3 separate regions of the Homo sapiens genome follow, and all the other regions are linked to region 2. The links come from fine-mapping of genetic effects on gene expression. A gene starts in region 2. Each other region holds a variant in brackets. All regions are shown on one strand. Distances are between the middles of the regions.

What was found. PIP is the estimated chance that this variant, and not a neighbour inherited with it, causes the effect.
Region 1: its variant is fine-mapped to the expression of VSIG10 in whole blood (TOPMed, PIP above 0.99). The same link has a PIP of 0.9 or more in breast and unexposed skin.
Region 3: its variant is fine-mapped to the expression of VSIG10 in whole blood (TOPMed, PIP above 0.99). The same link has a PIP of 0.9 or more in blood mononuclear cells, monocytes, monocytes after LPS, monocytes after Pam3CSK4, monocytes after R848 and monocytes after interferon gamma.

What each region holds. Positions count from the first base shown.
Region 1 is chr12:118,069,224-118,073,363 of GRCh38, forward strand. It overlaps VSIG10 (V-set and immunoglobulin domain containing 10), which reads right to left. Exons shown (of 9, transcript NM_019086.6): 6 at 2,136-2,246; 7 at 1,829-1,844. All of the region lies in intron 1 of LOC124903030 (a long non-coding RNA gene), which reads left to right. Among named protein-coding and RNA genes, the nearest start is that of WSB2, 10 kb to the left of the region's middle. The variant A/G (reference allele first, on the strand shown) is at 1,768.
Region 2 is chr12:118,102,069-118,106,208 of GRCh38, forward strand. It overlaps VSIG10 (V-set and immunoglobulin domain containing 10), which reads right to left and starts at 1,943. Exons shown (of 9, transcript NM_019086.6): 1 at 1,525-1,943. The coding sequence starts at 1,603. It overlaps LOC124903029 (a long non-coding RNA gene), which reads right to left and starts at 1,514. Exons shown (of 2, transcript XR_007063478.1): 1 at 921-1,514; 2 at 1-199. RefSeq lists a silencer at 1,787-2,036 and an enhancer at 3,678-4,140.
Region 3 is chr12:118,061,581-118,065,580 of GRCh38, forward strand. VSIG10 (V-set and immunoglobulin domain containing 10) reads right to left here. Exons shown (of 9, transcript NM_019086.6): 9 at 2,013-4,000. It overlaps LOC124903030 (a long non-coding RNA gene), which reads left to right. Exons shown (of 2, transcript XR_007063479.1): 1 at 1-100. It also overlaps a transcript of WSB2 not described here. Among named protein-coding and RNA genes, the nearest start is that of WSB2, 2.4 kb to the left of the region's middle. The variant G/A (reference allele first, on the strand shown) is at 2,213.

The DNA.
Region 1 (4,140 bases), 33 kb before region 2:
GGACTACAGGCATGCGCCACCACATCTGGCTAATTTTTGTATTTTTAGTAGAGACATGGTTTCAACATGTTGGCCAGGCTGGTCTCGAATGCCTGGCCTCAAGTGATCCAACCACCTTGGCCTCCCAGAGTGCTGAGATTATAGGCATGAGCCACTGTTGTGCCCGGCCTGGACTGTGCATTTCTTCTTCTTCTTCTTCTTCTTTTTTTTTTTTTTTTTGAGACAGAGTTTCATTCTTGTTGCCCAGGCTGGAGTGCAATGGCACAATCATGGCTCACCGCAACCTCTGCCTCCCAGGTTCAAGCAATTCTCCTGCTTCAACCTCCCAAGCAGCTGGGATTACAGGCATGCGCCACTACATGCGGCTAATTTTTTGTATTTTTAGTAGAGATGGGGTTTCTGCATGTTGGTCAGGCTGGTCTCGAACTCCCGACCTCAGGTGATCCACCCGCCTCGGCCTCCCAAAGTGCTGGGATTACAGGCGTGAGCCACTGCACCCGGCCTGGACTATGCATTTCTTAAGGAAGAAGAATGAACGCCACAGGTCAGTCACCTGCCCGAGGAGCTGTGTTACATTGTCATTTAATCTTCACAAACCCCCTGGTGAAACAAATCAGGAGACTAAGGCTCAGAAAGGGTCAGGGATTTTCTATGGGTACAGGGCTTGGGAATGGCACAGCTGTCATTTGAACCCAGGTCCAATGGTCTCAGTGCCTTTTCCTACTACACCACACTGATGCCTCCAGTGAGAAATAAGCCCAGGGAATGACAGACTTACTAAGAATGGCCCTCCAATACAGGGCAGTAAAGGTAATGTTTTGCTACGAAAGATGGTCCCAGGTCAATAATATCCTGTCATTTTGAAGAGGTAAAGAACTGTTTTTCCATAGGATCATAGAGAAGAGTACTCTGCTCCCACCCAGAATCTCCTTAGGAAATGAAATACACAAGTTCCGTTTGGTTCCTTCGCCCCTACTGGGGTTTCCTTTTGGGAGGGGGTTCTGGGCATGCTCATAGTAGTCTTCCAAAACACTGTAAAACTGGCTGGGTGCAGTGGCTCGTGCCTGTAATCCCGGCACTTTGGGAGGCCGAGGCGGGCAGACCACTTGAGGCCAGGAGTTTGAGACTAGCCTGGGCAACATGGTGAAACCCTGTCTCTACTAAAAATACAAAAATTAGCCAGGCTTGATGGTGCGCACCTGTAATCCCAACTACTCGGAAGGCTGAGGCAGGAGAATGGCCTCAACCTGGGAGGTAGGGATTGCAGTGAGCTGAGACTGCACCACTGCACTCCAGCCTGAGCAAGAGAGAGAGATTCTGTCTCAAAAAAAAAAAAAAAAAGAAAAAAGAAAAAGAAAAAAAAACTTAAGACTATGACTGATTCTTTCTTTTAGCTCTTTTTAGAAAATTAAATAAAACAAATGCATGAATGACTGGCTCAAAATGTACACATTGTCTTTCTGTCTCAATGACAGACCTGCAATGTGTCCAGCCCTGAGGTTTGGCGCTGTAAAAGAACACAGACTTTGGAATTGATTAGACCTGGACCTGAAGGAAGGCACTGCTGCTTTCTTCTGGAATGAGCTTGCAGAAATTACTTCACTGAGCCTCCATCCCCTTATCTGGAAAATGGAGATGTCACCACCACCCTGAGGAGATGATGAAAGGGTTTATAAGAATACCTGATGAAATCCCTAGGCCAGTGTCTAGCACATCGTAGGTCCTCAATGGTAGTTGCTATTATTGTTCTTGTGAAAGGAAGGGAAC[A/G]AAACAGAAGTGAAGACAGATGCGGGAATGGGTGTTTGGTTTGATTCTAGGGAACACTCACCTGGAAGTGTTTCCTACTGAAGAGAGAAAGGAAAAACCATTAATATCCAGTAACATCCACTTCAACCTGACAGGTTCTTAATCAGGCAAACATTTACTAGAGGAACAAATAAGAAAACTGACTCAATATGACAGGTGATAGGGTGTCCCGGGATGGTACTTAGGTGACTTATTACTGTGTATCTTGACCCAGCAAAGAAGCCCAGAGAACAGAACTTCAGGTGGGAGCAAGGCAGGGGCCATCCTTCCCCATCCCGCACCTTTTCAAAAGTCTGGAAGAGAAGCTAAAGGACCCAGGGAGTCCTTACCTTTCCAGCAGAACACAGGGCTATAATGCAACAGAAGCCCTGAGATAATGGCCAGTCCCAGCAGAAGGAGGCTCACAATGGTTCCCACAATCCCCCCGATATTTAAAGGTTCTGTAAAGACAAATCACACCATTGATTCTTCCATCAGATATGTGTGCAATTAGAACAACACCTCCCTTTCTCTGCGTGGATCCAGTTCTTGTCTTGATTCCTGACCTTGGGTAAGGCTTATGACCTGTCTGTAATGCCAGATAAATATTTTATCACCCAACCTCAGAGAGTTTGTGGGGATCAGATGGAGCAGGGAATGTGAACAAACAATGGAAAGTTAAAATCTCTCTGTCTACCAAACACTGAGACTATTTCTAAGGCCATGGTAAGTAAGAGTGTTGAGAGTTATCAATGCCATGATAAACAGAGTGATCAACGGAACAGAACAGAGAGTCCAGGAACGGGTCCACACGTAAGTATAATTGATATATGACAGGGTCTTGAGCAAAGGAAGCACTATTTAAGAATTGGTACTAGAGCCCGGGCGCAGTGGCGCATGCCTGTAATCCCAGCACTTTGGGAGGCTGAGGAGGGCGGATCACCTGAAGTCGGGAGATCGAGACCAGCCTGACCAACATGTTAAAACCCCGTCTCTACTAAAAATACAAAATTAGCCAGGTGTGGTGGTGCATGTCTGTAATCCCAGCTACTTGGGAGGCTGAGGCAGGAGAATCACTTGAACCCGGGAGGCGGGGGTTGCGGTGAGCCAAGATCGCGCCATTGCACTCCAGCCTGGGCAACAAGAGCGAAATTCCATCTCAAAGAAAGAAAGAGGGCCGGGCGCGGTGGCTCACGCCTGTAATCCCAGCACTTTGGGAGGCCGAGGCAGGCGGATCACGAGGTCAGGAGGTCGAGACCATCCTGGCTAACACAGTGAAACCCCATCTCTACTAAAAATACAAAAAATTAGCCGGGCACAGCGGCGGGCGCCTGCAGTCCCAGCTACTTGGGAGGCTGAGGCAGGAGAATGGCATGAACCCAGGAGGTGGAGCTTGCAGTGAGCCGAGATCGCACCACTGCACTCCAGCCTGGGTGACAGAGCAAGACTCCGTCTCAAAAAAAAAAAAGAAAGAAAGAGGAGGGGAGGGGAGGGAAAGAAAAGAAGGAAGGTAGGAAAGGGAAAAGGGAGAAGAGAAAGGAAAAGGGAGAAGGGAAGGGAAGAAAGAGGCCAGGTGTGGTGGCTCATGCTTGCAATCTCAACACTTTGGGAGGCTGAGATGGGAGGCTCACTTCAGGCCAGGAGTTCAAGACCAACCTGGTCAACACAGTGCGACCTCATCTGTATAAAAAATAAAATAAAAAGAAATAAGTAGAGACATATATAGTAAAACTTAAAATTCAGGACCATGGTTACCTTTCGAGAGAGGCCCAAGATGAGACTAGGCCTACAGGGAGGGTTCCCAGGTAAAATTCAGTATGCCCAGTGAAATTTGGATTTCAGATAAACAATGAATAGTTTTTTTAGTGTAAGTATGTCTCATGAAATATTTGGGACACACTTATACTTAAAAGTATTTATTTTTCTAAACTCAAATTTAAGCAGGCATCCTGTTTTTAAAGTTCTATTGCTATTTTCTTCTTTTTGAAGTGGATTCTCGCTCTGTCACCCAAGCTGAAGTGCAGTGGTGTGATCTCGGCTCACTGCAACCTTCGCCTCCCAGATTCAAGCAATTCTGCCTCAGACTTCCGAGTAGCTGGGATTACAGGCACCTGCCACCATGCTCAGCTAATGGTCTCGAACTCCCAACCTCAGGTGATCTGCCCATCTCAGCCTCCCAAGTAATTTTGTATTTTTAGTAAAGACGAGGTTTCACCATACTAGCCAGGCTGGTCTCAAACTCCTGGCCTCAAGTGATCCACCCGCCTCGGCCTCCCAAAGTGCTGGGATTACAGGCGTGAGCCACTGTGCCCAGCCCTATCGTTGTTTCCAAATCTGGCCCTGAGACATACAAGT
Region 2 (4,140 bases):
CACTGCACTCCAGCCTGGGCAACAGAGCGAGAGCCTGGCTCGAAAAAAATAGCTGGCCATAGCAGTGGAGATAGGTTCCCCATGGGGCGGGTGGCAGTCAGCCTGAAAGCCAGGTCATTCCAGCAGGATGACTTCATCCCAGGGTTCTTCTCACTTCCCAGGTTCCTGGTGTTCATCGTGCAGGAAACACTGCAAACAGCTGGGGAGATGGGAATACTTGACAACCACCTTTCACGTCCAGAGATGACCAACTAGGAACTGTCCTCCCCCATCACCCACACCCCAGCACAGTGATTACTCAGCCAAATGCCTGCAGGGCCAGCAGGTAACACCCATGACTGAAGGTGGCGGGGCAAATATTACAACAGGGAGAGGTGGAACAAATTTGGGCTCATATGCCCTAGATAAGAGGATGACCACTGCCCAATTCCAACTGGGAAAGCAGGCCCCGTGTTGCCAGACCTTCAGATTTTTCCAGATAAACTGGAAATCTAGAGATGTTATTGTTTTTAAATGGTTGGTTAAAAAAAAAAAAGCAAAATAAAATTGTATGAGCCTAATAATTAGGAACTCTTGGCACTTGCTGCTAAGAAGCTCCAGCATACTTTACAACCCATCTCCAGAAACGTGCAAGAGGAGACCCGTTGGGTGGAGCAGACCCGGGAACACAAAAAGTAGCGCTCTGCCTGCATCCTGGCAAACTTCACCACCTCCTGGCTCCATCTCCTCTCCCTGCACCCCAGCCTCCTCCCAGCTTGTCACACTCCCAGCACACAGTAGGCATGCACAGTAGGCATGCTGGTGAATTAAATTCAAATATATATAAATAGTTCAATCTTTTTACATTCTACATATTTTTGTAAGCACCCCTCCAATTCTTTTTTCGTAGCAAAGCAGACCATAGATGAAGCATTTCAGACCTTTTGTCAATCATGTCAAGTGTGAGGGGAAGTCTTTTGTAAGTCAGCCAAGTATTTCAAAATAAAAAGCTTTTCCAAAAGTAAAGGCGGAAGACCCCGCTTTGAAGGCGCTGGTCGGCACAGGAAGACTTGCAAAGGTGTGTAGGGAAGTCCACCGGTTACAGGTGTAAGGCGAGTTCAACCTTGGGCAGAGGGAGGAGAAAAATAAAGTGGGAGTCTCGAGTTTGAGCACCAGCGTATCAGTTACTACTAAAACCAGAACGCGAATTTACATCCGACGCTTAAAAAAAAAAATCACTTTCCCGGCACACGTGCCTCTTTACTTTGCCCCCGCACGTCGGCTCGGCTCGGCTCCTCTGCAGCCTCACCGGCTGCCCACCCCAGGAGGCTGGGGGTATCTCGCCCCGCACCGGGCGCCCGGGAAAACTCCTTCCTGCAAAGACGGCCGAGCTGCGAGCAGGAAACCAAGACCCTCCTGGGGCAGCTTCTAGGCTGGGGCCACCACGGATCCGGGCGGAGTCGGAGGGAATTGGGTCTCTCGCTGTCCCCTCCCCACCGCTGACTGGGAAAACTCAACTTTTCCCTCCAGATCGCGGCCCCTTACCTACGGCGACCCAGCCGGCCAGGAGCGCCCCGAGGCAGACGAGGACGCGGGGCTCGGGCGCACTGCCGCCTGCGGCCATCTCGCCCCAGATCCCGGCTCAGGAAACGCAGGCTCGGGCTGGGCTGGACGTGTGTGCCCCAGGGCCCCGGGGCCCGGGGTACCGAGGGCTCCTCCCAGGTCCTCGGAACGGCAGAGTGGCCCCACTTCCTCGGCCCCCAGGAAGGATGCTTGGCTGAGCCGAGTGTCCAGGGCCGGCAGCGGAGCTCGGCTGCAGGCTCGGGTCCCCGCTCCCGAGCGCCCTGGCCGGGGAGGGAGGGCGCACCCCGCCCCCTGCGCCCGCCAGCCTACTCCTGCCGGCGGAAAACAACAGGAGCGGGATCCCTCCCGCCTCCCAGCCAGGCGGGAGCCCAACTTCCTCTACCTTGGCCCGGGAGGAGGGCTTTCTGCCGAGGGCGCGCCGAGCCGGGTCCCGCCGGGCCAGGGGCGGGGCGCGGAGGCTGGGCCCTCCCCAGTCCACTCCGCCCGGGACAGCAGTACCGAGTCGCGGGGACAGCGGGCGGGACGGAGCCCTGCAGCTGCCGCAGGACGCAACCCCCGCCGCTGCCCCGGGCTGCAGAACCCGGAGGAAGCGGTTGCCAAGCTGCAGAACGCAGGACCCCCCTGGCAGTCCCCGCTGAGCGTCTCGAGGGATTCCGGTCTGTGTCCCTGGGCGCAGGGCGGGCGCCAAGGCCGCCATCGCTTCCTTTCCTTACCCTCTGCAAAAGGGAGCCAGAGAAAGATGATCCCCTGACTTTCAGCCAAAGCAGCCACGAGACTCCGGTTCTCCAGTGAACTGGCTGGGACCACACAGTGACAGCGAGAGCCAAGGAGTCCCCAGGACGTGTTTCTCAAGAGTTTTGTTTTTGCTTTTCCCCTTTTAGTTCTCCCACCCCTTACCCAGTCAGATTCCCAGGCTAAGCTCCTCTCTTCCCTGCCATGCCCTCATCCCATTCTGTCCTGGGGAAAATGCGGCTTTGATATCCTCAGGAAGAGCCATCCATAAAACAGCCCTAGGAGAAACTTCCTGTTTCAAATAATAATAATATGGCAGGGCGTGGTGGCTCACACCTGTAATCCCAGCACTTTGGGAGGCCGAGGTGGGCGGATCACAAGGTCAGGAGTTCGAGACCAGCCTGACCAACATGGTGAAACCCTGTCTCTACTAAAAATACAACAATTAGCCGGGCATGATGGCGGGCGCCTGTAATCCCAGCTACTGGGTAGGCTGAGGCAGGAGAATCGCTTGAACCCAGCAGGCGGAGGTTGCAGTGAGCCGATATCACGCCATTGCACTCCAGCCTGGGCGACTGAGCGAGACTCCATCTCAAAATAAATATTAACGTTAAAAAAAAATCATTAGTTCTGTTGTTCAACGGTCCCCTTATTGAAATGCTTCTTCCATGAGGAAATCCTCTTGAAACCACTTTAAAAAAAAAATGTTTCTCCTGGTGAACTGAGCAATGAAGCTGAACAGTTCTGCCTTTTTTACTTTTCTGTTTTTTATTTTTTTGAGACAGGGTGTCACTCCAGTTGCCCAGGCTAGAGTGCAGTAGCACAATCATACCTCGCTGCAGCCTCAAACTACCAGGCTCAAGTGATCCTCCCACCTCAGCCTCCCGAGTAGCTGGGACTACAGGTGTGCAGCACCACGCCCAGCTAATTTTTGTAATTTTAGTAAAGACAGCGTTTCTCCATGTTACCCAGGCTGGTCTCGAACTCCTGACCTCAAGTGATCCACCCGCCTTGGCCTGCCAAAGTGTTGGGATTACAGGTGCGAGCCACCGCGCTCAGCCCTTTTTTATTCTTTGCTCAAATATTTTTAAATAACTGTTCATCAGCCGGGCACGTTGGCTCATGCCTGTAATCCCAGCACTTTGGGAGGCCGAGGCAGGTGGATCACCTGAGGTAAGGAGTTCGAGAGTAGCCTGGCCAACATGGTGAAACTTCGTCTCTACTAAAAATACAAAAATTAGCCCGGTGTGGTGGCAGGCGCCTGTAATCCCAGCTACTTGGGAGGCTGAGGCAGGAGAATCGCTTGAACCCAGGAGGTGGAGGTTGCAGTGAGCCGAGATCGCGCCATTGCACTCCAGCCTGGGGAGAAGAGCGAGACTTCGTCTCAAAAAAAATAAATAAATAAAAAATAAAATAAAATAACTGTTCATCAGATTCTTGACAGGAATTTTGTTTGTTTGTTTTTTGAGACGGAGTCTCGCTCTGTCGCTGCAAGCTCCGCCTCCCAGGCTCATGCCATTCTCCTGCCTCAGCCTCCCAAGTAGCTGGGACTACAGGCTCCTGCCACCACGCCCGGATAATTTTTGTATTTTTAGTGGAGACGGGGTTTCACCGTGTTAGTGTGGGGAAAAGCAAGAGAGATCAGATTGTTACTGTGTCTGTGTAGAAAGAAGTAGACATGGGAGACTCCATTTTGTTATGTACTAAGAAAAATTCTTCTGCCTTGAGATTCTGTGACCTTACCCCCAACCCCGTGCTCTCTGAAACATGTGCTGTGTCAAACTCAGGGTTAAATGGATTAAGGGCGGTGCAAGATGTGCTTTGTTAAACAGATGCTTGAAGGCA
Region 3 (4,000 bases), 41 kb before region 2:
GGGGGTGTTGGAGAGTGGTAGAGCCGGGCTGAGAGAAAAACCAAGCAGGGGAAGCGGCGATCCGGGGAGAACGGAGAGAGGGAGACCGAGGGCTGTGGGGGTAAGGGGAACCAAAGGGGCTGAAGCGAAATCGAGGGGAGGGGCAGGTGAAAATGGAGCCATGCGAAGGCCGATGAGGGGGGAAACGGGTAAAAATGGGGGCGGGAGAAATAGGTTGGAGGGAATACTGGCCGAGAAGAAACCTGGGGAGAGCTGGGCTTAGGGGAAAATGGGGAGGGGGTGGAAGGAAGGTGTAATAACCGGGTGCTGGGGAGGACGTAAGAATTGGGGGGTGCGGCGAGGGTCAAGGCTAGGGTAAAACAAGGGGGGCTACTCAATGGCTCCGGTAATGGGAGAGGGAAGTGAGGAGAACACGGGGCGGTGGGGAGAGGAGGGCAGGGTGAAAACCGGAGTGGGGGTGGGAACGAGATAAAAAACGGGGCAGGAGCGATTCGGAAGAAGACTGTCCCCTTACCTACCTACGGCGACAGCCTCGCCTGTCCCCGTCCCCCTGAGAAACCTGCTCTCCCTGTCTACCCGCATAGCCTCAAGAAATGGCTCGCTTGGGTCAGACGCCCCCTTTTTAACATTCCAGGGCCAGGGCAGGAGTCATCATGGAGGCTTTTCATGCCTGAAAGACCCCATTTCTTAGTTGTCCGGTCCCCAGTAGTATCAGTGGCTTGGGGATTTCTTACTGAGCTCAGCTCATTGTCCCCAAAATGCCTCCCCTTACCCCCAACTCGAGCGCTTCCCTTTCCTGCTTTGGGCCCAAGCTCTTCCCGCGGTTCTTGGTGTCAGCTTCATTCAAGTCACTCTCCCGCCTCTCATTCCTTTCTCCCCGCCTTTCTTCGCTTCCCTCCAAGTGCCCTCTCCATTTGCCGGTCACTGGTCCCAGAGCTCCGGATCGCAGTGGTTCCATTTTAAATTTCTTTGCTTCCTAACGCAACCTATGTTTTCTACGGTAACTGAGGTTCCCGTGTTCTTTTTCACCATGGTCTCTCCGTTTTAATGTTTCGGGTTTTTTTACCCAGGCCCCTGTTTTATGAGCCCTGGGTACGTCCTTCCTGTGTCCCGTTTGGCCTCCTGGGTTACACTCCTGTTCACCCCGCTTGGCCGGTTTTTTTTTTTCTTTTCTTTGAACCTGCCGGTTTCTCAGTCTCCCCCTTTTCCGCTGGCTACCTGTCCCTTTCTCGCCGCCCATGTTAACTTTAGCATGCCCCGTTCTCTCTCTTCATTTTCCACTGGGTATTTTTTATGTTTCCCAATTTTAAAAACGGCCCAGCGCACCCCTTTTTTTGGGACTCCACTTTTATCTCTGGCACCAGTGTCGGCCTCCTCCACCTCTGCTCCCATTTAATCGCTAATTTCCTGCCTCCTGAGGACCCCCGTTTTATTGTCCAGGCTCCCCCCTCCCATTTTTCTCTTCTCTAATTTTCTGAGTCTCCATTTTTTGTCTCCCAAATTCCTTCGATTCCTGGAGTCTTACAGGCCTCGTTTTTATGTACACGTCATGGAAAAGAATAAAAGGGTAAGGTCGCGGGGCGCGATGGCTCATGCCTGTAATCCCAGCACTTTGGGAGGCCAAGGCGGGCAGATCACCTGAGGTCAGGAGTTCGAGACCAGCCTGGCCGATATGGCCAAACCCAATCTCTACTAAAAATACAAAAATTAGCTGGGTGTGGTGGCGGGCACCTGTAAACCCGGCTACTCGGGAGACTGAGGCAGGAGAATCACTTGAACCCAGGAGGTGGAGGTTGCAGTGAGCTGAGATCTTGCCATTGCACACCAGCCTGGGTGATGGAGGCTCCGTCTGGAGGAAAAAAAAAAAAAAAAAACAAAAAAGGCGGGGCTGAGGTGAGAAGAATATTGTTACCAATTTTTAAAAAGCTAGTAAAAAAAATTTTTTTTGGCAAGTTCGTTTTTCCAAGTCTTTCAATTTACTAACCAGGTCTCAATCAAGATCACAAAAGCACTTACTTAAAAATAGCTTTATTCCATTATCTTTTAAAAAAGGCATATGATAACCTCAGAACTAATTTCTCCCAACCTCCCCCCACCACATCTTAAAATGTAAATAATGGAGAAGGAGCTGCTTATTTTTCTTTGCAGCAGTTCCTGGCCAGTCCCAACGTGAGAAATATCAGTTGGCACTTATTGCATCATAATACATTTT[G/A]CCTAGTAAGGATGATTTTCTAAGTCTCAGTGCATGGGTTATTGCAATTTTCCATCTTGTGTTTTCCTGCGGCAATTATGGGGCTTGTATGTGCTTGTGAGAATTGGGGCTAATATCAAAGCCACAGAATTGTGGAGGCCCCCTTCCCAGGCTCCACCAGGGTTTGAGAAAAACAAGAAAAAAGTCAGTTGCAATGGACCTGAAGTGTGTATCTTCCTGGTCCTGATAAATAGATCTCATGGTCTCTAAGTTAACAATACATGCAGATAAGATTTTTTTTAAAGCACAGTGTAACAACTTGGACTTTGCCACACAAACTGTAATCCACTGTCAACAAGCTTGTGGATTTGGGCATGGATCGTCTTAAAGAAGCCCGAATTCTTCAAAAAATCCTTAAAACTTGAAGACCTGGATTTTACCTGACCCAGGATATTACTGTGCACACAGGACTCAGATATGTGACAGCAGTCACAGCTCAGCTGGTCAAAGGTTTATAGTGTTTGACACCAGGACCATGAAGCTCCCATTTGGTAGTGGAAAAACCCTCAAATATTTCCTATCAACAGATGTGTGTGCTAGAGAAGAGGAAGTTGTGGAAAATATCCCAGTGATCCTACAAAACATTCTCTGTGTTCCTAGCTAGGGTTTTTTTTTTTTTTCACCTCAACAGTTTTTGTGTTTTCTTTTTTTAATCTTGTTGCCTCTGAGTAGTAGACTCTTCAATTCTGGAATTTGGTTGCCGAAGACTCTAAAGGAGAGACTCACTCAGTAATTCAGTGACTTTAGAAGCAAGCTGAGTATCTCATTCTAAAATGACACTGATTTACACTGTTGAGAATGGTTAAGTACGTGGGGTACCTTGCAGCAAAAGACAAAAAGCAAAAAGCCAGTAGACCTGCAATTCACAGCTATTCCTGAGGGGTGCACATTGCAGCCCACTCTTGAGCTCCCCAGTGTTCTGAGCAGGGGACAGGGCATACTTCTAGTGATTTGCTCAGTTTAATCCCTTCATCCAAGAAAACAGACCTTCCCCAACCACACCTGCAGGGTTACTTCAGACAACCAGCTTCTCATTTTAGAGTCCCAGTTCCTAGAATTGGAGAAAGGAAGTTCCCCTTTAAGCCCTAGGTCCTGCCCACTAGAGCAGATACGCAACATTAAAGAGTGCAAATTCAAGTCAGTTTTTCATATTTAGCAAACATCCATTGCACCCTTATAAGGTCCTCGACTTTAAGAAATTTATATGAAATCGGAAAACTTAAATCTTGAAACTATACAAGGATCTACTGGAAGCATCAGCAGGCTAAACTCATCACATGGTATTTTCATTCCAAATTTAGTGTTATTGATCAGTGTACCCTCAGAATATCCTTAAGAAGCAGGAAGGAAACAAGTTTTCCTCTTCCCACTTCCAAGACTGAGAAAGAGTCCAGATGAGCTGGTTTGCCCAAGCAATTCTTATCACCAGATACTCCGTTATTAAACGTGTCTCCTGCCTTCTTTGAAAGCAACAGGAGAAATGAAGCATAGGAAAGTCTGCAAGCTAACAGTGTATCACCTAGGAGGCTTGTATATAAATATGAAGCTCTGCAAAATGTAGTTATAATGAAAGGCACTTCCTATTACCAGCTCCCTAACTCTTTTTAAAAGAATTCTATCTCCAGGGAAATAAAACTGGTTAAGACAGTGCTCTGATATGCTTAGTTTAGTTCCTTCATCCAAGAAAACAGACCTTCCCCAACCACACCTGCAGGGTTACTTCAGACAACCAGCTTCTCATTTTAGAGT